Linked DNA regions of Homo sapiens. The protein of the gene in region 1 purifies or fractionates together with the protein of each later gene. This does not show direct contact. Each region holds a gene or a part of one and is shown on either strand. Other genes may lie near its edges.

Evidence for each region. The genes of interacting proteins can lie anywhere in the genome.
Region 2: the proteins of MMRN1 (region 1) and F5 purify together in Homo sapiens (affinity purification with mass spectrometry; 3 studies listed by BioGRID and IntAct, with this or other methods). This does not show direct contact.
Region 3: the proteins of MMRN1 (region 1) and CTSV purify together in Homo sapiens (affinity purification with mass spectrometry; 3 studies listed by BioGRID and IntAct, with this or other methods). This does not show direct contact.

What each region holds. Positions count from the first base shown.
Region 1 is NC_000004.12:89,946,842-89,953,866, forward strand, and holds part of MMRN1 (multimerin-1 isoform 1 precursor), read left to right. Parts: intron 1-4,763; coding exon 4,764-4,910; intron 4,911-6,155; coding exon 6,156-6,577; 3' UTR 6,578-7,025. UniProt on the Homo sapiens protein: Carrier protein for platelet (but not plasma) factor V/Va. Plays a role in the storage and stabilization of factor V in platelets. Upon release following platelet activation, may limit platelet and plasma factor Va-dependent thrombin generation.
Region 2 is NC_000001.11:169,513,458-169,520,482, reverse strand, and holds part of F5 (coagulation factor V preproprotein), read left to right. Parts: intron 1-1,919; coding exon 1,920-2,071; intron 2,072-4,856; coding exon 4,857-5,039; intron 5,040-6,023; coding exon 6,024-6,170; 3' UTR 6,171-7,025. UniProt on the Homo sapiens protein: Central regulator of hemostasis. It serves as a critical cofactor for the prothrombinase activity of factor Xa that results in the activation of prothrombin to thrombin.
Region 3 is NC_000009.12:97,036,119-97,043,953, reverse strand, and holds the start of CTSV (cathepsin L2 preproprotein), read left to right. Parts: upstream 1-4,811; 5' UTR 4,812-4,883; intron 4,884-5,900; 5' UTR 5,901-5,910; coding exon 5,911-6,036; intron 6,037-6,338; coding exon 6,339-6,461; intron 6,462-6,555; coding exon 6,556-6,702; intron 6,703-7,206; coding exon 7,207-7,431; intron 7,432-7,835. UniProt on the Homo sapiens protein: Cysteine protease. May have an important role in corneal physiology.

The sequences.
Region 1 (7,025 bases):
AGTTATGCTACTTGCACAGTGGTAGAATGTTGACTTGGAAGAACTATTGAACTAATTGCACTGATCTCCATTAAAAAAAATGGACAGGAAGGAGTTTAAGAGGTTATTGAAGCTCAAGGTAAGGGGAGAAGTTGTGGAAAGTTCGCTTAAATGGATTCACTTCTGGGCACAGTGGCTCACACTGTAATCCCACATTTTGGGAGGCCAAGGCAGGTGGATCACCTGAGGTTGGAAGTTTGAGACCAGCTTGGCCCACACGGTGAAACCCCGTCTCTGCTAAAAATACAAAAAATAGCCTGGCATGGTGGTGCACACCTGTAGTCCCAGCTACTTGGGAGGCTGAGGCAGGAGAATAGCTTAAGTCCAGGAGGCAGAGGTTGCAGTGAGCCAAGATCATGCTACTGCACTCCAGCCTGGACGACAGAGCGAGACTCCATCTCAAAAATAAAACAAATAAATAAATAAATAGATTCATGTCTCTAGGATAACATGACAATGATAGCATAGTGTCAAACTCTGTGACATTTGAGAAACTGGGAAGAAGGTTGAAATTTGATAAGAATGTGGTATTCTATTCCATCTTTTATTAATTTGTCTATTCATTTTTAAAACTACTTTAGTATTTTCTATATGTCAGGCACTGTGCTAATAAGGTTGATATGAAGTTTAAGTCATAGAGAACATGATCCCTGACCTCATGAAAGCTCATACTCTTGTTGGAAGTAAGAAAGACACCAAAGCAATTACAGTTGAGTGTGATGAATTCAAGAAGACAACTTTGGAGCATCAGGCAGCAATGGAGAGAACTAAAGTGATTTACTCCTAGGGATGAGGAAAGATGTCATAAAGAAAATGATGCTTTATTGGAGTTTGATTTTTGTTGGTAATTCAAGAACAAGTAGCCTATTAAGCACAAATATGAGCAGGTACTTATAAAGGTACCTAACCATTTTTTAAGCGTTTTAATAATAAAGGAGAAAAATAAGTCAGGTGGTGTACAAAAGTTGATTTTGTTTTGTTTTGTTTTTTGAGATAGAGTCTCACTCCGTCGCCCAGGCTGGAGTGCAGTGGCGTGACCCTGGCTCACTGCAACCTCCGCCTCCTGGGTTCAAGTAATTCTCCTGCCTCAGCCTCCGGAGTAGCTGGGATTACAGGCACACACCACCACACCCAGCTAATTTTGTATTTTTAGTAGAGATGGGGTTTCACCATGTTAGCCAGGCTGATCTCAAACTCCCGACCTCAGGTGATCTGCCCGCCTCAGCCTCCCAAAGTGCTAGGATTACAGGCGTGAGCCACCGTACCCAGCCAAAAGTTGATTTCTAACTCATTGTATAACAAAGTACAAATAGCTTCAGTTGGAAAATCAGTGCCATTCAATCTTTAGTTGTCTGTTATAAGGCTCTGTACTTGTCACTAATCCATCAGGTATTTTTTTTCTAGTACGTATTTTTATCGATAACTTGGAGGAACGCATGAGACATAAATTTGGAAATGATAACAAAGATAGGGGAGGGTGGCTGAAACATCTATACAGAATAAAACTGAATGCTTTCTATGGACAGAGATGGTAACTCATGTCTAATAAGATAAATTTTATTATCAATAATAATTGTAAATTCATGTTTAAATGAATTAAATAGACATGAGATTTTAGAAAGCTTCAATACATCAGAGCACAGGAGACCTGTTATGAGACAGTGTGATACAGATGCAGAAATAGACAATGAATACTTAATGCTTGTGTTATCTTGACAGAAGTGTAAGTTCATTTCAGCAGGGGTAACTAGCAATTGCTACCATAACCTACTATGCTTGGGCTCAACTGGTACAATATGTCCAGTTCTGGGTGCCATGGACATGATTTTATATTTTAAAATGTGATTATTTTGGCAGAGACTTGGAAAGTCCAGACATACCTAAAATAGCAAAAAGAGGCACAGAAAGGAACTTAAAACAGAAGCAGTCGAAGCAGGTACAGACAAGTGGCTGAGGCATCCTGAGCAGATAATCAGTAGGCACCATGAAAGATGTCCTAGAAGGCAAGCTGTGTGCAGTCTCAAGAAGTTTGGGCTACTGTAACAGTAGTAGTAGATGCAGACCTTCAATTAAACTTAAGTGTAGCCCTACTCCAGATGAATGACCCTAAAAAGAAATTGGAAAATGGGGTAAAATAGCACCCTCTGAAATGACTCAAAGAACTACAGCAAGGCAAGACCCAATTCCTAAAGTAATGGAACATAAAGAAGCAAAAAATGGAATGCTGCTCCTGGACATTAAATAGCAGGCAGAATCCTTGATCCTGAAGATTCAGAGTAGAGCCAACAGCAATGCAGATAAATCTAATTTTTTCCACAGTTTCTTAAGTTCTCCTTATAGCACAGCTTTGATCCCTGATTCATGAACAGGGCCAAGGTTACAGGTGACTGTGATTTTTTATATTTGGGAAAATTAAAATTATAGAGCTGATCAAATTACATAAATAAGTTAGTGTTCCCCCCAACTCTACTGCACAATTGATACATTCCTAGTGAAACCCATTAATTGAAACTTCTCCTGTGAGTTGATCACTGTGCTAAATTCAGAGAATGTAAAAATAAATGAAGCAAATGCTTTGATACAGAATATTCACATTACTATAAGTAATGAAAAGTCATTGATGTTTTTAATGCAGGAAAATAATGGGCAAAGTTCTGGAATGTTAATGAGCAGCAAAAAAGGGATTTGATAATCTATTCACATGCAGCAAAGTGAGGTTAAAGGAATGTTAGCCAGTCGAAATATTTGTTAAAAGGTATTACACACATGTAATATTTTAATACTTTTCTTAATAAGGAAAATAGTTTATAGAATATTGCAGAGAATATATCAAGATAATTCTGATTAATTTCTCATTACATAAGTACAATATTAATATATTTGCTTTGCAAAAAATTTTAATAATACAGGCATGCCGTTTGTTCACATTTTATGTGAATTTCAATTGTATGGCTATGAAACAAAATGTATATAAAAATTTATAGGTCTCACTTCATGAGAAAAATATTACACAAAACAAATAACTTCCAAATTAAAAATCATCAACAATCACCTGGTTTGAAATGAGTGGATGGTAAACTACATCATTACCATAAGGTGGCACCAGAGTAACTGTGGCAAGTAGTATAAGCGCTGAATTCTTCTGACCTTGTTTCTGCATTTACATAATTATGCATTATGTTTATAACCATATTCATAATTTGAAGCTTTCACAACAAATGAAATTATTCTATATGTAATGTGTGAGCTGTAACTTTCTGTCTTCAGTAAACCAAACCTGTTGGAGAATCTACCTCATTCTTTAATTGCTGTCTAATATTCCTCAGTGGGAATATGTTACAATTTATTTAACAAGTCCTGCATCAGTGATCATTTAGGAGTCTTTAAATTTTTCAAGAATGCAAGTGATATCATTTTGAATTGAAGAATTGTCTTTGTGCACATGGACAAGTATGTCTGGAGTATATATATACTGCCAGAAGAAATGTTTGGCTCAAAGTAAATTAACCTTTTTAATACTGATAAATATCGTCACATTGTCCTATTAACAGCTATAGCAGTTTACACTCCAGCCAGCATTGCATGAAAAGGCCCATTTTCCCTTATATTGACATGACTGGATATTTTCTACGTATCTTTTTAAATGTTGCCACCTTATATTTAAATAATGTTATTATTGCTAAATTTATTATTTCTGAATTAGTAATGAGGTTGCATATGCTTTAAAACTTTTAGTGACCTTTTGTGGGTTTTGTTCAATGATTTGCCTACTGATACATTCTCCGTTTTTTAACTTATTTTTTTCTGATCTGTAAGTGAAGACCATTTTCTTATTTTTATTTATTTTTTATTTAAAAAATTAGAGATGGGGTATCACTATGCTGCTCAGGCTGGTCTCAAACACCTGGACTCAAGCCATCCTCTTGCCTTGGCCTCCTGAAGTGGTGGGGTTACAGGTGTGAGCCACCATACCCGGCCTCATTTTCCATTTTTAAGGGAGAATTTTTTTTTTCTTTTCAGAGTTTTTCATATGTTATGAATATTAGTCATTAGATTGCCATGTCTTCTAATTTTGTAACTTATCATTAAACTTTGAAAATGGTGGTTTTCAATGCAAATGAGTTTTAATTCTTAGGTCAAACATGATAATGTTTTTCTCTTATGGTTTCTGAGTTTTGTTTTCCTTTGCTTTGCTTTGTTTTGCTTTGAAAGAATTTTTTAAAATTTTAAAGCTCTAGAAAGATATTCTCCTTTTTTGTTGTAATGCAATCATATTGGTTTTTTTATATTTAGTATTTTTGTATATGTGGAATTTATGTTTCTAATATATATTCAATACCACCTTAGCACCATGTATCGAACAGATATTTTTCTTCTCAGTGATTTAAAGCATTACCTTTATCAAGTACCAGTTTCAAATATACATGATTTGTATTGAGATAATTCTATTCTGTTCTGCAGTTGACAAGAATGTTAACATTTCACACCAATAAATGTAATGGATCACAGAATTTTGCCCACTTTACTGAAGGAGATAGAGAGATCAGAGCTAAGGGATTTGCATGACGTCCTGTGCCCAGATCGACAGGCATCCTGGGCCGTGGAGCCCATTTTTCTTACTTAAAATTCAGTCTTTTTCCTATTCTGCTGCAAACTACGATTTGAGATCAACAGGAAAATAGGTCACTTTATTCTCTTTTACCTTGATTCTTTTTCCGTAACAGAGGAGTATTCAAGCTGTAGTCGGCATCCGTGCCAAAATGGGGGCACGTGCATAAATGGAAGAACTAGCTTTACCTGTGCCTGCAGACATCCTTTTACTGGTGACAACTGCACTATCAAGCTTGTGGAAGAAAATGCTTTAGCTCCAGGTAAAAAAAAAGTATACGCATCTTTGGATTTGCTCATTGTCATAAATAGAAACACGTTTTGAAAATATTTATTAATGAATATTTAAGCCTGCTTAATCTGGATCCACTTGACAATTCCTTTTACTTTTTCGAAACTTACTGAAGAATGTACCTGATTTACAAGTGGAAATGTCCTTTTGTTAGGCAAATTCTTATTCACATGCACCTGTTGAAATTTTCAATATTGCTATATAGAGGCAGTTTATGGAAAATTCTACCCCCTCACAAACTTTTTTTCTCTTGTGCATCCTAAAAATATATGGATGTATATATCTGACTGATAGAAACACTTTCTCCTCAAACAAGCAGTTAAAGAAATACGCCTTTGATTTATGTCTGGTATGGTCATTTAAATGAGGCTTTAATACATGCTTAGTAACACGTTTTCTGTGAAGGTTAAACTAATGGCACCATTTTGACTGTGTGAGAACTGTTAGAACATGCTCAAATGTATTAAGTAAAACAAGATGGCTTTTTTATTTATTTAAATTCATAAGTATTGGTGCTTTGGATTTACTTCAGGAGTGCACCATTTCTGATTTTTATACAGAAATGTATGTGCAGCATAAAAATGTGTTATTTAATGACTGCAAAAAAACCTATTTCAAATCAGCTTTTTCTTAATAATATCCTGCATAGTGAAATGTAAATTTTTTAGTCTGTTTTTAGATCTCAGCCTTTGTAAGTACAATTGGCATTAATTACACAGAAAATTGCCTTTGTCTACTTTGCTGCAGTGAATATGACTTTATATGGTTTTCGTTTTAGCCTTTAGAAACTGCTTGACAAGGTGCCGGAAAAATTGTTTCTACATCATGTCAGCTTCAATTCCTGCAAGGGGCTTTAAAACATTCTGACATAACCATAATAATCATAGAGTGCTTTGAATTCCTTTATCTCTGGGGAGATCAAAGCAACATGCAAATTATCTTTGAGGCATTTCTGTGAGGAAGGTATCAAATGTTATTTTTATTCTGTCCTGATCTAAATGGAGAAACTGAGGCAACAAGAGGCTAAGCAATTTAGAGTAATTTACCCCAGAGAAGAGACAGGCATTGAGACACGTGCACCTTTGCTAAGTTTGATGGATGGCCTTTCTCTTCTGCTAAGACTTTTTGTAACTGAGATAAAAATGACGAAGATATAAGGAAAGAAAAATAAGATAAAAACATGAAAATTAACTCTTGCCATTTTTTCCTCTAACAGATTTTTCCAAAGGATCTTACAGATATGCACCCATGGTGGCATTTTTTGCATCTCATACGTATGGAATGACTATACCTGGTCCTATCCTGTTTAATAACTTGGATGTCAATTATGGAGCTTCATATACCCCAAGAACTGGAAAATTTAGAATTCCGTATCTTGGAGTATATGTTTTCAAGTACACCATCGAGTCATTTAGTGCTCATATTTCTGGATTTTTAGTGGTTGATGGAATAGACAAGCTTGCATTTGAGTCTGAAAATATTAACAGTGAAATACACTGTGATAGGGTTTTAACTGGGGATGCCTTATTAGAATTAAATTATGGGCAGGAAGTCTGGTTACGACTTGCAAAAGGAACAATTCCAGCCAAGTTTCCCCCTGTTACTACATTTAGTGGCTATTTATTATATCGTACATAAGTTAGTATGAAAAACAGACTATCACCTTTATTGAGAAACAGCCAGTGTTTTCATTTATCTTTGCTTGCACATCTGCTCTGTTTTGGTTTTTCTACAGGAAATGAAAATCAACTTGTTTTTTTAATATGAGTAAACTTGTATGTCTATTTTATAAAATTATTTGAATATTGTTTAATGTCTGAATATGAAAGAGTTCTTGATCCTAAAGAAATTTAGTGGCACAGAAAACAAAGTGAATTTGTTAGCATAATTATTCCTATTCTTATTTCTTCATTTTAAGTCATTGCAATGGAAAGTAATATTATAAAATGGTAATTACAACATATTATCAGTCACAGTTTTCTTTCCAATTAAACACTTAACTTTTGTTATTCCCTGTATATAAATATATAACACACATTTTCTAGATTCACAAATTTAAATAAATTACTCAAAAAATGAAAATTGA
Region 2 (7,025 bases), on another chromosome or scaffold:
CAAAGAATCAAGATTTGGGAGGTATAGGAGAATGAGTAGAATTTTTAGTTCTTTTCAGTGACTTAGGCTCCTAGGAAAACCTTTGTGAAACAGAGGTTCTACTCAGGTAAACTCTCAGTGTGATCTAGACCAAGAATGGTTCTGCCAATCAGAGTGCCGACAGCATCTCTGTGAAGAAAGTGCCTGGATTATATAGACACATCACAACTCTCCAAGGAAGGGCTCTAATTTGGAATTACCTCCATCAGCCCATTTTCAATAAGACCTACCTGAGATTCAAACTAGGCCTGACTCTTCCAAAGTCCTCAGGTCACTCAAACTTCAATGTCATGACAGTATCTGGCAACATCACTGCCATATATATGGTGTTCAATGAGTGTTTTTGAAATCTGAATTGGCTTCCCAACTTCCTGAAACCACAATTCTTCTTTATATTTTCTTTCATACCCTGTGTAGGTACTCAAGTCTTTTCTATGTTAGCTGCTATTTCTCAGGGGCTGTAATGTGACCTGTGGTATAAATAAATCCAGGTAATCATAAATGGTCATAATAAAATTCTACTATATATAGCAAGGATGTTTAAGAGTCTTAACTGTTCTTCTTGGACTCTTAAAGCAGTGCTTTCCAATATTTTTTACTTCAAAGCACACAAAGAAAATAATATCTGCCTGGCATTCTGAGGTAAAAGAATGAAGCAATAAATCTAAGGCTTGGCTGATCCAGGCCCCACTTGGCTGCTGAAGGGCTGGAGGTGGGAAGAGGGATCAATAAATAGGTGCACTAGAAACCTGCCGTGGCACACCTGTCAGGAGTTGCAGTACTTCCCTTTGGGTGGAGAGAAGCCACCATGATTCACAATGGAGAAAGTAGCTGAAACCTGGAATCAGTTTCCTGTTGAAGCAGATAATGGCACAGTATACCCTTGGATGGATATGGGTATTTTGCCAATGTCCAGATAGCAGTAGTCTAAAACATCTCCCAAATAAAACACAGATCTTGTATCGGCAGGACCACTCCTTGAAACAGTTCCATAAGTCATTGCGTTTTTTTCTTTCCATATGGTATAAATAGATTTGTTCAGATCCTAATAAACTACCCTAAAATGTGACATTCAATTCTGCTAACTTATTTAAAACATCTATTTTTTATACAAGAAGCATTATTTTCTTCTTATTCATTTTCTTGATACTTAGGTAATTATTAGCAGTGGGTATTATTTTTAGGACCCTTTGTTTTTTTCATGGAGAAAGTAAGGCATCACTTCAAGAAAATTTCTGCATGATTTACCAACAAGAACAAAGTGTCACAGAGATGATGGGTGGTCAGCCAGGTTCACTCACTAGCTGTGTTTCTTACAGTCACAGGTCTGCCTTGCTGCCTATGATATTCAAATTACACCTTGGAAAAATTCCAAAGGGTACATAACTCGAATTACCCTCTAAGGGTTGAAACAGAAAATATTAAATAGTGACTGAGGGTCCATTGTATCTTCTTGGTAGCTTTTGTTAGAAGAAACAGAGTATTTTTATATATAGATAATTTAGGATTATTGTCACCTGAAAGCAAAGACCAAAGTTTCCAAGACTCTCAGAAGGAGGAAGTGAGTTTAAATGTTTAGAACATGGTATTTGGTATCAGATTGTCTGAACTCAATTCAGTTTCTGATTCTTGTGGCTGTGTTACCTTAGACAAGTTACTGTGTTTTGGCTGTACTAAAATGGAGATATTTATGAGCATTATATAATACATGTAAAGCCTGAGAACAGTATTTGGCACTTGGATTCAATAAATCTTCATTGTTGTGGTTATTGTTTTTGTCATTTGTTGGTAGTAATATTATTTCTTATCTCCTCTGCAGTGCATGAAGCCATGCAGGGAATATTGGTGTGTAATTAATCACGTTACTTTTCTTTTGATAGGATGTTCCACACCCCTGGGTATGGAAAATGGAAAGATAGAAAACAAGCAAATCACAGCTTCTTCGTTTAAGAAATCTTGGTGGGGAGATTACTGGGAACCCTTCCGTGCCCGTCTGAATGCCCAGGGACGTGTGAATGCCTGGCAAGCCAAGGTCAAGTATACTCTATGCATGGTGTTCTCTTAGGGCTCCAGAAGAAAGCAAAGGCCCTCACTACCACAAACATGGAGGATCTGGGAAGCAGGAGTATTTTAATCTGTTTCTGCAGATTAAAATCCTAGGTCCAAGAGTCCAGGATGTCTGTGGACTTGATAGCTTTGACTATAACTTTGTCTCAGAGAGAAGTCATTTATCATCTCTGTGGTTTTTGGTCTAGTCTTGATTTAAACCAATAATAAGCAAATTAATTTTTCTGCAAAGGGATAGATGGTAAATATTTTAGTCTTTGTGGGCCATACATTCTCTGCCATAACTACTCAACTCTGCCATTGTAGCAGTAAAGTAGCCATAAACAATATGTAAATGAATGAGCTGGCTGTGTTCTAATAAAACTTTGTTTACAAAAAACAGGCAGCGGGCCAAATTTGGCCCATGGATCATAGTTTGCCAACTCCTCATTTAGACAGCTTACATTAGTGATAAAAAAATGATTTAGATTTGCAACATCATCTCTTATTTTTTCTTTACAATTTAGCAATATTTTTTCATTTTCCTAAATGAAATGTCATCTAAACTTTTTTGTTCTCTTCCCCGCCCTCCTTATTTTAAGAGCTTTGTGATATTCCTTGAGGCAACTAGAAGCATAGTAAAATGTTGCAAAACCAGAGTTATAAAATCAGTGATCTAAGTTAAACAAACACCTTCCAGAGAGTTATACTGTCCCTGATATTAGCCCACTGAGTAATTCAGGTGATTTAATTTGGGGGTAACTCTTAATATTTGACTCATTTTTATTAATTCTTTAAATGACCTGAGATATCAGAATGGCATGAATAACTTGATGATCCCTTCAGCCAACTAAATCCAAATTCCCTAATTTCTATCCTCATATCTCCCTCCCTTAAGATACCTACACTCCAATTTCCTGGCTTTCTATAGAATTCCAGGGCCTATCCTTAAATTAGGCCACTAGAAAGGAAAAAAGAATTGTGGTGCTGGTGGCGTAAATAGAAAAGATTGGATTCCACACAGTCTTGGGAACTGATATCTGTGTCTTGAAACTCATTCTGGCCCAATATGGAATCACAGAATGTTACAGTAGCAAGGAGCAAAGCATCTGGTCTAGATTTTTCCTTTTAATTCTAAATACACAGGAGATTAAATAATTTTAGCTTAGTTTGGTAGCAGAATCAGGACTAGAATCCCATTCTCCCAGTAAACAGGCCATGCTCCTTCCACCATTTGAAGCAGCCCAAATACCTCATTTTGCAATTTTGCAGAGGGCAAAGCTGACACCCAGAGAAGTTAAAATAATAAAAATAGTGTTATATTACATTTATATAATTTACATAGCAATATAAATAATAATTAAAGAGATGTTATCCAATTCTTTTTCAGATGACTCTTTAGACTTGTTCATGGTATAACCTTGTCACTCCATACTTCATTTTACAATCTTTTAAAAAAATTTGCACTCTCTATAATTTGCTCTTAGTCTTTGTGATATAACAAGGGCCTCAAAGATAAAATGCTAATTTTTAATGGTGTCATTTCAAAGTTAGAATTCGGGATCAGAAATATGTGTTTTACTTAACCCCCTTCCATTCACATGAAATGTCTTTATATGGTCTCTTTAGAGAGGTTGAAAATCAAAGCTGGACATATGCAGTGATGCACATAGATGCTGTTCTCTCCATAACTAAAATGTCTCTACCTCTTTTATGCCTGTGAAAACCTCTAGCTGGTTATACTCTGCATCACTGGTACAACCTTGATATGAAGACACACTAAGATACCACCCAGATGTCACTAGAGGATGTTATAGACTTAAAAGTTTTCTCATATAATCATTCTAATTCAGTTAATTTGCTTTTAAAATACATATAGCATGTGAATTTTTGTGTATACACATATATACACATACACCTATATATACACATACACTTATGTATGTGTGGGTGATGTTGAAGAAACATATCAATATTATTTCCTTTAGAATTGAATGAGGTTATGGTAGACGATAAATCTCCCAAAGGTAAAAATTTATCTTAGATGACTCTAAAACTCAGTTTAGACCTTCTGATCTTTCTCCAAACACATATCACCAACCATGTGATTAGGCATTTTGTTAGGCCAGAGACAGGACAATAACTGTACTGTGTATCAAGCTCTACTTATGGTTTTATCAGGTCTCTCAAATGTTACATTTATTTGAAATATTAGAAGAAATTGAACTATTTCTGCTCTTTGACATTAACAGGGGGAAAGAGAAGTTGTGTTTTGTAAAACAGGTGAAATAGAGAGAGAATGCTATCCAATTATTTCCCAGATAACCCTGCAGCAATATTACCAGAGTATTTAAAGAAATTTGCTTAAGAAAATAATATTCACAGATAATTTAGCAGTTTAATTATTTTTCCAAATAAAGCTCATTTATTCATTCATTTATTCAACAACTATTTATTGAACACCAACTGAGTGTCTTAACATTGTGGTGAGTACCAGGAAACAAAATGAAATAAGCCTCTACCCTTAAGCAGTAAGGAATGCTAAGAAGGAAACAATTATAGTACAATGTGTGAAATACTTCAATAAAAATTTACACACATATTGTGGCAATGAAGAAGAAAGAGGGAAAGCTTCTAGGAGACTGTGAATCCTAAGGGATAAGATAGAACAAAATCCTTTTGAGCTCTGTGCTTTTTTGCATAACTTGGTCTAAAAAAAAAGCAAAGGTTTTAACATCTTCCTTATCTATGTGTTTTTGTCATTTTCATAGGCAAACAACAATAAGCAGTGGCTAGAAATTGATCTACTCAAGATCAAGAAGATAACGGCAATTATAACACAGGGCTGCAAGTCTCTGTCCTCTGAAATGTATGTAAAGAGCTATACCATCCACTACAGTGAGCAGGGAGTGGAATGGAAACCATACAGGCTGAAATCCTCCATGGTGGACAAGGTAGAGTGGCATCTGGGCAAAGAGAAAGCAATCTGAAGACTGTGCTATAATGAGAATAACAGTATTTTGCATTTGACAAATATGCAGTGACATGTACCACCTCTTTAAGTCTTCTAAATCTTAGTTCTTAAGGTGCCTGGTCTCAGACAAACTCCTGGTTGTCTGTTTTGGTTTGTTTTATTTCTCACTACACCAGGTTGCCCTCATAGGAGGATAAATATCATTGTCATAAAAAAAAAGAGTGATTTTATTTCTGGTGTGTGTAAACCTTGGGGAACTTGCTGATGATGGAAGGGGGAAAGTTATACACTTTAGTTGAGGATATAAGGTACATGCCAACAAGAATAAATAAATTAAAATGCATGGTCACATTTTAAATGTTAGCAATAGTCAAACATTTATTGGTGGCCACTTCCTGGCACTTACTATGCACTTACGTTGACATACATTTTTAAATATTTACAATGACTTCTGTGAGGTAAAATGTTATTATCCTTATTTTGCCAATGAGGAAATGAAGAATCAGAGAATAAGTAACTTGTTCAGTCATACAGCTAATACAGACGGGCTGAAGGCAGAAATGGTTTTGCAGCTGCTCCACAGCACCATGTGAGACTTGTTTATTTTTCACTAATTTAAGTCAGATCACTGGTGAGATGAAATCTATCTGGCATGTGATTTCATAACTGATAGAGGATCATCTCTGTGAGAGTGTTCTATGTGTTCTTTGATATGCTCATTTTGAGCTAATAGGATAAAAAATTTTCTGGGTTGGGCATGATGGCTCATGTCTGCAATGCCAGCACTTTGGAAGGCTGAGGCAAGAGGATTACTTGAGAGGAGTTTAAGGCTGCAGTGAGCCATGACTGTGCCACTGGACTCAAGCCTGGGCAACAGAATAAGACCCTGTCTAAAAAAAAACAAAAACAAAAAACCTTAGCCATTTATGTTGTCATTAAAGATTTTCTCTTATTTGGCTTTCAGATTTTTGAAGGAAATACTAATACCAAAGGACATGTGAAGAACTTTTTCAACCCCCCAATCATTTCCAGGTTTATCCGTGTCATTCCTAAAACATGGAATCAAAGTATTGCACTTCGCCTGGAACTCTTTGGCTGTGATATTTACTAGAATTGAACATTCAAAAACCCCTGGAAGAGACTCTTTAAGACCTCAAACCATTTAGAATGGGCAATGTATTTTACGCTGTGTTAAATGTTAACAGTTTTCCACTATTTCTCTTTCTTTTCTATTAGTGAATAAAATTTTATACAAGAAGCTTTTATAATGTAACTCCTTGCTACCAGTAAGTAAGATAATGGCTATTACTTCTGCATTAATTTGAATACAGGTAGGAAAATATCAAGAACCAACAAGAAAAGGGCTTATCTTTCTTAATGATTGAAAATGCTATGAAGTAATATTTATGTAGTTAAAATGCTTCATTATAACTCTTTTAAATCCTTTACACACTAGTAAAACAGATATTACTTTAAATAATAATTGATAGACCTGGATAACTTTCACAAACACATGATTTTTTAATGGTTTTTCTTGAGTGAAGAGAAAAACAATATTATCAAATGAAATAAGTACTTAAAATATCCTGTCTTTCCCATATAACAATGATTTTTCTGACTTTCCATGAGTAAAAAAACAGCCAAGCATCTTTCCAGTAGCCCCATTGAAATTGTGAATCCGTCCTGGTCTCCCTAAGGACTGCACACATTGATATTCAAGGTTGGTGGTCATTAGATATGGAACAGAACTGAAATAACCATGGTAGAACTGAATGTGTAATGTTGGCTTTATTCTAGCTGGTACTACATGGCACACAGTTTCAAAACATAATTTCACCTACTGGAAAGCTCAGACCTGTAAAACAGAGCATGGGAACTGCTGGTCTAAATGCAGTTGTTCCTGCTCAAAGAGACCTCTGGCCAAACTGGCAAGCAGTTAAAGTTTTCTTTCAGGGCCTTCCTCTCT
Region 3 (7,835 bases), on another chromosome or scaffold:
GATTCTCCCCTAGAACCTCAGGAGGGAGGAAGGGAGGGAGCCCTATCACACCTGGTCTTTAGCCCAATGATGCCTGTTTAGGACTTCTGGCCTCCATAACTGTGAGGGAATAAAGGACTCCTGTTTCAAGCCACCAAGTTTGTGGGGATTTGTTATAGCAGACACAGGAAACGAATACACCTTGTTTCTTGAAAGGACTTTTTGAGGTTTGAAGAATTTTTCAGATTTGGCTGAGAGTTTGTGGATTACTGTTTTAGAGGAGGGGAGAAATTCCACCATTTCTCTTGTGAATTGGTTTCCTTGTTACTTGCTATACAAAGATGCTTCACCATAGTTCCATTTAAATATATCTGTCCTGTTCAATTTGCTATAGAACTGAAATTACTGTAGTGAACCACATATTTAAATATGGAAAGGCTGAACCTCAGAAAGCTGTTAGGAAAGCTAAGAATGTGGAAGTGAATGCTCATGCTACACCAGAAGAGGAGAACTGGTACCGAGTAAGAGCTGAATTCTCATTGATTGATTTACGTGCTTGATGAATTGGCTGATAGTTTAACTCTACAGGAAAAGCACAGTTACAGTAACCAAGAAAAGTAGTTATTTCATAAGTGGTTTTATATGAACCTCAAATCATAAACAGGCTGTTTGCTATACGATTATCAATGGTGACAAACCATTTTGCAAGTGGACAGTTTGCTGGATAATGCTTCTTAAGAGTAATTCTTGGCTCAGTGAATTTAAACAAATCGGAGGGGGTTATTATACTGGGGAGAGGTGTTAAGTGATGTCAGGGTCTTGAATGCCACCACACTAAGTTTGCCAGTTCCCCTATGGTTTAAAATTTCCGGAGACTGGGTAAAGAATCACATCCTCTTTTATTTATTTATTTATTTTTGAGACAGAGTCTCACTCTGTTGCCCAGGCTAGAGTGCAATGGCGCAATCTCGGCTCACTGCAACCTCCACCTCTCCGCGATTCTCCTGCCTCAGCCTCCCAAGTAGCTGGGACTACAGGCATGCACCACCACACCTGCCTAACTTTTTTTGTATTTTTAGTAGAGACAGGGTTTCACTATGTTGGCCAGGCTTGTTTCAAACTCCTGACCTCAAGTAATCCACCCACTTCAGCCTCCCAAAGTGCTAGGATTACAGACGTGAGCCACCATGGCTGGCCTATATCCTCTTTTAATAGTGAGTAAAAGAAAGCTACACAGATGCACGTGAGAATATACTTTCACAGGCACTGCGTTTTAAATAGGAATCAGGAAGTTCTGCCAACTCCATTTTATTAAAGGCATAACCAAGGCTTGGTTGCTTCACTAACATGTGACTGTTCTAAAAATTATCACTCATCAAAATTATTTTGCAAAGAAATAGGAATAGAAGAGTAGGGAAAGAAACAAATATTTAAATACAACTGTCCTGGCTAGTAATACCACATTTCTGTAATGCATTTTTTTACAGATGTGTATAAATAGATATAAATAGGTGTCCTAAGTTGGAGCAATAACGTCTTCCACCCTCTTGCTTATTGGCTTTCTCCCATATTTCTTCTGCATTTACATATTTCTGGTATAATTTTAGATTTGGGGCACACTTGGTTTGAAAAGGGTCTATGTTTTCTCCACTACTTTTGTCTCACATTCCAAAAAACAAAGGGGATGCCATTCTTCAGGGCAGCACCTGCCACTCATCTGCTGTCAGGCTATTGCTTAAGGCACAGATCTTAATGGCCTGGCAGGTTTCTCCACCCTACAATCTTAGGGAGCTGTGGCCCAAGGGCAACTGTAAAACCCACGTGTTAGAATAACTTAGCTTTCTTGTGATAGACTGAGTAAACAAATAGACAATGGCCATAGTATATGGCAATAGAACTCTGACCCACAGAAGAAATGAAGCATAATATCTGCAGAGACCAACTCAGAACAGTCAGGACTTACTCAGTGGCTGACAGCTTCCTCATTTTTGCCTCTGCTTCCAACCCAGGACAAACCAGAAAAACCAAATATACTCCACAAACAAATCACATAAGACGCTCCATCTCTAGTTATCCCTCCTTCAGCTTCTCCATGACGACACTCTGCAAAGAGGACATAGCTGAAGTTGCCCCCTTTTTCCCCTAAAGCTTTTCTTCTCCCTCGTCTTTGAATTATCTCCTTTGTTATAGCAAGTTCTGAATATATGGCCTCTGTTTGTTCTTAGGTGGTGGTCTTCATTTATTTCCACATGTGAATGATGATTGTGTTCAACACAATGATTAATTTTTAAAAAAGAAAAAAAACAGCTATTTGCAGTACAAGATGCTTTTTTTTTTTTTTTGAGACGGCAAATTTGCAGTACAAGTACAAGATGCTTTTTTTTTTTTTTTTTTTTTTTTGGGACGGCATCTCGCTCTGTCACCCAGGTTGGAGTGCAGTGGCGCATGCTCTGCTCCGCTCACTACAACCTCAGTCTCCCAAGTAGTTGGGACTACAGGCATGCATCACCATGCCTGGCTAATTTTTGTTTGTTTGTTTTGTATTTTTGGTAGAGGTGTGATTTCGCCATGTTGCCCAGGCTGGTCTCAAACTCCCAGGCTCAGGAGATCCACCTACCTTGGCCTGCAATACAATATACTTTTGTATTTTTTATATAACCACCTGACAGCTTTGGCCCCTAGTTGTATTTGAGAGGGAAAAGCTGCTATTTATTTAAAGGAAGGACATATAATTATTAATAAATTGATTTTTAAAAAGATGTATTTGCCTGATGGTGCTTCTGAAAAGTTGTCAGTTTAATTGTTTTTAATTTGTTAAAAGAAAATCCATAGCCAAATTAAATTTAAGAGAATTTAATTGAGCAAAAAACAATTCGTGAATCTGGCAGCCTCCAGTGCCAGAGTAGGCTCAGAGAGACTCCAGTGCAGCCACATGGGGGAAGATTTATAGACAGAAAAGGGCAAGTGAGGCACAGAAACTGCAGGATTGGATACAGCTCCATGTTTGCCTTATTTGAACATGGTTTGAACAACTGAACCTCTTTGATTTACAGAAATTCGGGGATAGGCACAAGAGCAGGCTACAGTCTGTTTACACCTCCATTTAGATTACAATTCGCTATGTACAGAGAAACCTTTAGGCCAAACTTAAATCACATGGGGAGGCAGCTTTAGGCTAAACTTGATTTCACAAATTTTCAAATTAACAAGTAAAAACTGTGGATATTATTCAATTTAATCTTTAAGAGTTTATTAATCAATATGCATTATAACTTCATTTTTGTAAAAACAAAAAAAGATATGCCTAGAAAAGGGTTATGGAGAGGGCACAAGGGACGTTTATTTTCTAAAACATATTTTTTATAATGGATTTTTTTATATAACTTTAAAAAGAATTAGAAACGTTTCTGAATTATTAATGATTTCCTTAAATCTTTAGCTACATATATTTCTCCATAAAGAGCAGTTCCTCAAACTGCATCACCTCAACCCTGATATTATATATTTTTATTTTTATTTTTATTTTTTGAGACAGAGTTTCGCTCTGTCACCAGTCTGGAGTGCAGTGGCACGATCTCAGCTCACTGCAACCTCCGCCTCTCGGGTTCAAGCAATTCTCCTGCCTCAGCCTCCTGAGTAGCTGGGACTACAGGCGCCCGCCACCACGCCCAGCTAATTTTTGCATTTTTAGTAGAGACAGGGTTTCACCATGTTGGCCAGGATGGTCTCGATATCATGACCTCGTGATCCGCCCGCCTCGGCCTCCCAAAGTGCTGGGATTACAGGTGTAAGCCACCGCGCCCGGCCGGTATTAAACATTTTTAAAGTAAATTTATTAAATCTCAAAAGAAGCACACTTTGAATACTGAGGAAGAGACGTTGTAACCCATAAGCAGAGAGTAGGTAAGTAAAAGCAATTTCCACCACTCTCAGACTGGGCGTAGTGGCTCACGCCTGTAATCCCACCACTTTTGGGAGGCTGAGAGGGGAGGATCGCTTGAGGCCAGGAATTCAAGAGCAGCCTAAGGAAACTTAGCCAAACTCCATTTCTACAAAAGAAAAATTTTTAAAGCAATTTATTTCACCATTCTCAACGCTTTTCTCTTTTTTATTAACCAAATATTTCTGTAACTCTTTTTTTTTTTTTTTTTTTTTTTTTTGGTATTGAAAGACATGGGAGAAGGAAGAATTCCTGAATGCAACAGACTGGGAAGGACGCACCACAAAACGCTCCGCGGTCTCTGGACACCCTATCAGCTAGTCCCGTCCCTCCTGGTGTCCGGTCTCGACCATCCATCCCGTGTTTTGGGAGTGCCTTTCCTTACCAGATTCTTCTAAAGCCCTGATGCACCCACCCTTAAGTGGAAGGTAATGCTTCTGCTGGGGGCTGTGCGTTCTTCCACTCCGTCCCACCTTTGCCGTGGACTAAACAGGAGCCACTGAACGAGAGTACCCTGGCTCCCGGCCCTGCAGATTTTCACCAAAAACTCTAGGACTAAGTTAAAGTAGGGACTGAAATACCACACAGAGCTCGCTGTAAACCACCCGCTCAGCGCAGTAAGTCGGGATAGTCAGTAGATCTGAGCCCTTGAGGGAGGCGCCTCCCCCTCCTCCGCGCAGCCCCCGGGCGCCCGGCCCAGCTTCCCGCAGCCAGGGTGTATTGAGGTAGGCGCGCCCAGACCTGAGACGGGTTGGGACTGGGCTGCGTCACGCGCGGGCTCTAAGCGCCCGGGGCCCCGCCCAGTGGCCGGCACAGCCAATCGCAGCGCGGGAAGGCGGTGGGGGCGGGGAAGGCCGCCTGGAAACTTAAATCCCGAGGCGGGCGAACCTGCACCAGACCGCGGACGTCTGTAATCTCAGAGGCTTGTTTGCTGAGGGTGCCTGCGCAGCTGCGACGGCTGCTGGTGAGCGCCCCCGACCAGACCGAGGGACAGGGCGAAGGGGGACTGGAGGAGGGAACCCCCCTTTAGGGACACTGAGAGGAGGCGGGCGCTTCTGGGAGTGAGAGCTTCTGCCCGGAGCTCTGCCAGCCTCGAGGTGGGGAACGGGGGAGGGCGGTTGGAGACCCCAGGGAGGCGCCGGCACCACTGGGAGGGCCCGGGCGGGGCAGGTCAGTCATCCTGTGGGCTGAAGCCGGACCGGACCGGGCGGCTTCATGCCCCCAGCCTGGCCGCGGAGCCCCCGCTCCCTGCACCGCCGCAAACATTCTCGGGGCGCGGCGGCGCGTGCAGAGGGCGAGAGCAGGCGGTGCGGCCCCGGTCCTGGCCCGCCCGGAGCTCCGGGAGCTGCCTGCCTCGGTCCGGGCCCTGGCCCTGGGGCCCCTGGCTTCCAGCGGCGCGGCCTTGTGACCCTGCCCCGGTTTAGGGGAGCGAGTAGCACAGACCCAAGTGTGGGACGGCGGGAATAGTGGGTGCTCTCCTTCCCAGTGTCTCCTGGAAAGGGATTCCCGAAAGGTTTTATTCCAAAAGGAGAGGTTGGAAGACATAGCTCATCTCCTGCTGTGTATCAGCCAAGAAGGTGTGAGGTGGTGTTCCTTGGGGATCCGCTTGCATCTACTTGGGATGGTACGTCTTCATTAGTGAGGTTTTGCCTGGATGACCTCAGTACAATTGGTGCAAAACCTGGACCAACTCTTTCCTAGTTTTCTAGTTGTTGCCTTAAGCTTCTCACCCGTCAGGTATCTTTCACACCCTTCTCATACCCTAAATTATCGCATATGCTGTTTCAACGCCTCCAACTCTGCAGGCTGCTTTTAATTTTGGTGGGCCCATCAAATACCTCCACTTGGCCTGTTTCAGCCTCTTCCACAGTCCTTGGGGAAATGCTAGGGAGAATAATTGAAATATTTCTATTCCACGGGGGCTGTAAGATGGCTTTTTAGGATTGGTCTAATCAGATACTCATTTCTTTTCTCTTTCTAGGTTTTGAAACATGAATCTTTCGCTCGTCCTGGCTGCCTTTTGCTTGGGAATAGCCTCCGCTGTTCCAAAATTTGACCAAAATTTGGATACAAAGTGGTACCAGTGGAAGGCAACACACAGAAGATTATATGGCGCGGTTGGTAACATCTGAAACTGTCCAGAGGGACTCTGGAGAGAATGGTCCTCGCTGTTGGGAGTTGATAGCCAGAGAGTAGCTTCTAGACACCAGACCTTACCAGGCAATAACCTAACAGCACCCATTATAGGTGCAATATGGGCATATATCTCCATTGTGTCTTGGCTTGGAGAACAGCTCCCAGAGAAGTATCAACCCATCCCTGGCCATGGTTTCTCTTCCATTTCTGCCCGCAAATCGGCTTGGTGAACATGGGTTGGGTAAGTAGACATAAAGTCCACCAGCTATATGTTTGCCTCTAGAATGAAGAAGGATGGAGGAGAGCAGTGTGGGAAAAGAATATGAAAATGATTGAACTGCACAATGGGGAATACAGCCAAGGGAAACATGGCTTCACAATGGCCATGAATGCTTTTGGTGACATGGTGAGTGTGGCAAGGATTGCTGAACTCTGTGCTGCTTCTCAGTTCTTCACCAAAATAGTCTTGCTTTTAACATTTTATTTACTTCTCCTTGAAGACCAATGAAGAATTCAGGCAGATGATGGGTTGCTTTCGAAACCAGAAATTCAGGAAGGGGAAAGTGTTCCGTGAGCCTCTGTTTCTTGATCTTCCCAAATCTGTGGATTGGAGAAAGAAAGGCTACGTGACGCCAGTGAAGAATCAGGTGAGACAGCGTCAGATTCAGACCCTGTCTCCACAGGAAAGCCAAGAAGGAATTGGTGTCATTGCTGTGGTAGATGGTGGCACAACATATGGTGATGGGTTTTTTGTATTTTTGGTTTTTGGTGTTTTTTTTGTTTGCTTGTTTGAGACGGAGTTTAGCTCTTGTTGCCCAGGCTGGATTGCAATGGCGTGATCTCGTCTCACTGCAACCTCTGCCTCCTGGGTTCAAGAGATTCTCCTGCCTCCACCTCCCGAGTAGCTGGGATTGCAAGTGCTCACCACCATGCCCAGCTAATTTTTGTGTATTTTTAGTAGCGACAGGGTTTCACCATGTTGGCCAGGCGGATTTCAAACTCCTCTCCTCAAGTGATCTGCCCGCCTCGGCCTCCCAAAGTGTGGCGATGGGTTTTTTTTTTTTTTAAAGAATATTAAGGTAATTCAATTATGGGGTACTGTATTTGTATTGGTCTTGTAAATTTACAGCTTTTTTTTTCTCCCTTTTTAGAAACAGTGTGGTTCTTGTTGGGCTTTTAGTGCGACTGGTGCTCTTGAAGGACAGATGTTCCGGAAAACTGGGAAACTTGTCTCACTGAGCGAGCAGAATCTGGTGGACTGTTCGCGTCCTCAAGGCAATCAGGGCTGCAATGGTGGCTTCATGGCTAGGGCCTTCCAGTATGTCAAGGAGAACGGAGGCCTGGACTCTGAGGAATCCTATCCATATGTAGCAGTGGTAAATGGAGCTCCTTATCTTGTCATTCGTGCTCTGCTTTTGGAAAGTGGAACACTTTCAGAGATAACAGATACTTTTTTCAGAATTCACATTTTATATGGTAGAATCTACATCTGCAAACCGTGAGTATTGTCATTATAAATTATTAGCCTTTGGCCAGGCGTGGTGGATCACCTGTAATCCCAGCAGTTTGGGAGGCCGAGACAGGCGGATCACGAGGTCAGGAGATCAAGACAATCCTGGCTAACACAGTGAAACCCCGTCTCTACTAAAAATACAAAAAAATTAGCCCGGCCTGGTGGCGGGTGCCCGTAGTCCCAGCTACTCAGGAGACTGAGGCAGGAGAATGACGTGAACCCGGGAGGCGGAGCTTGCAGTGAGCCAAGATCGCACCACTACACTCC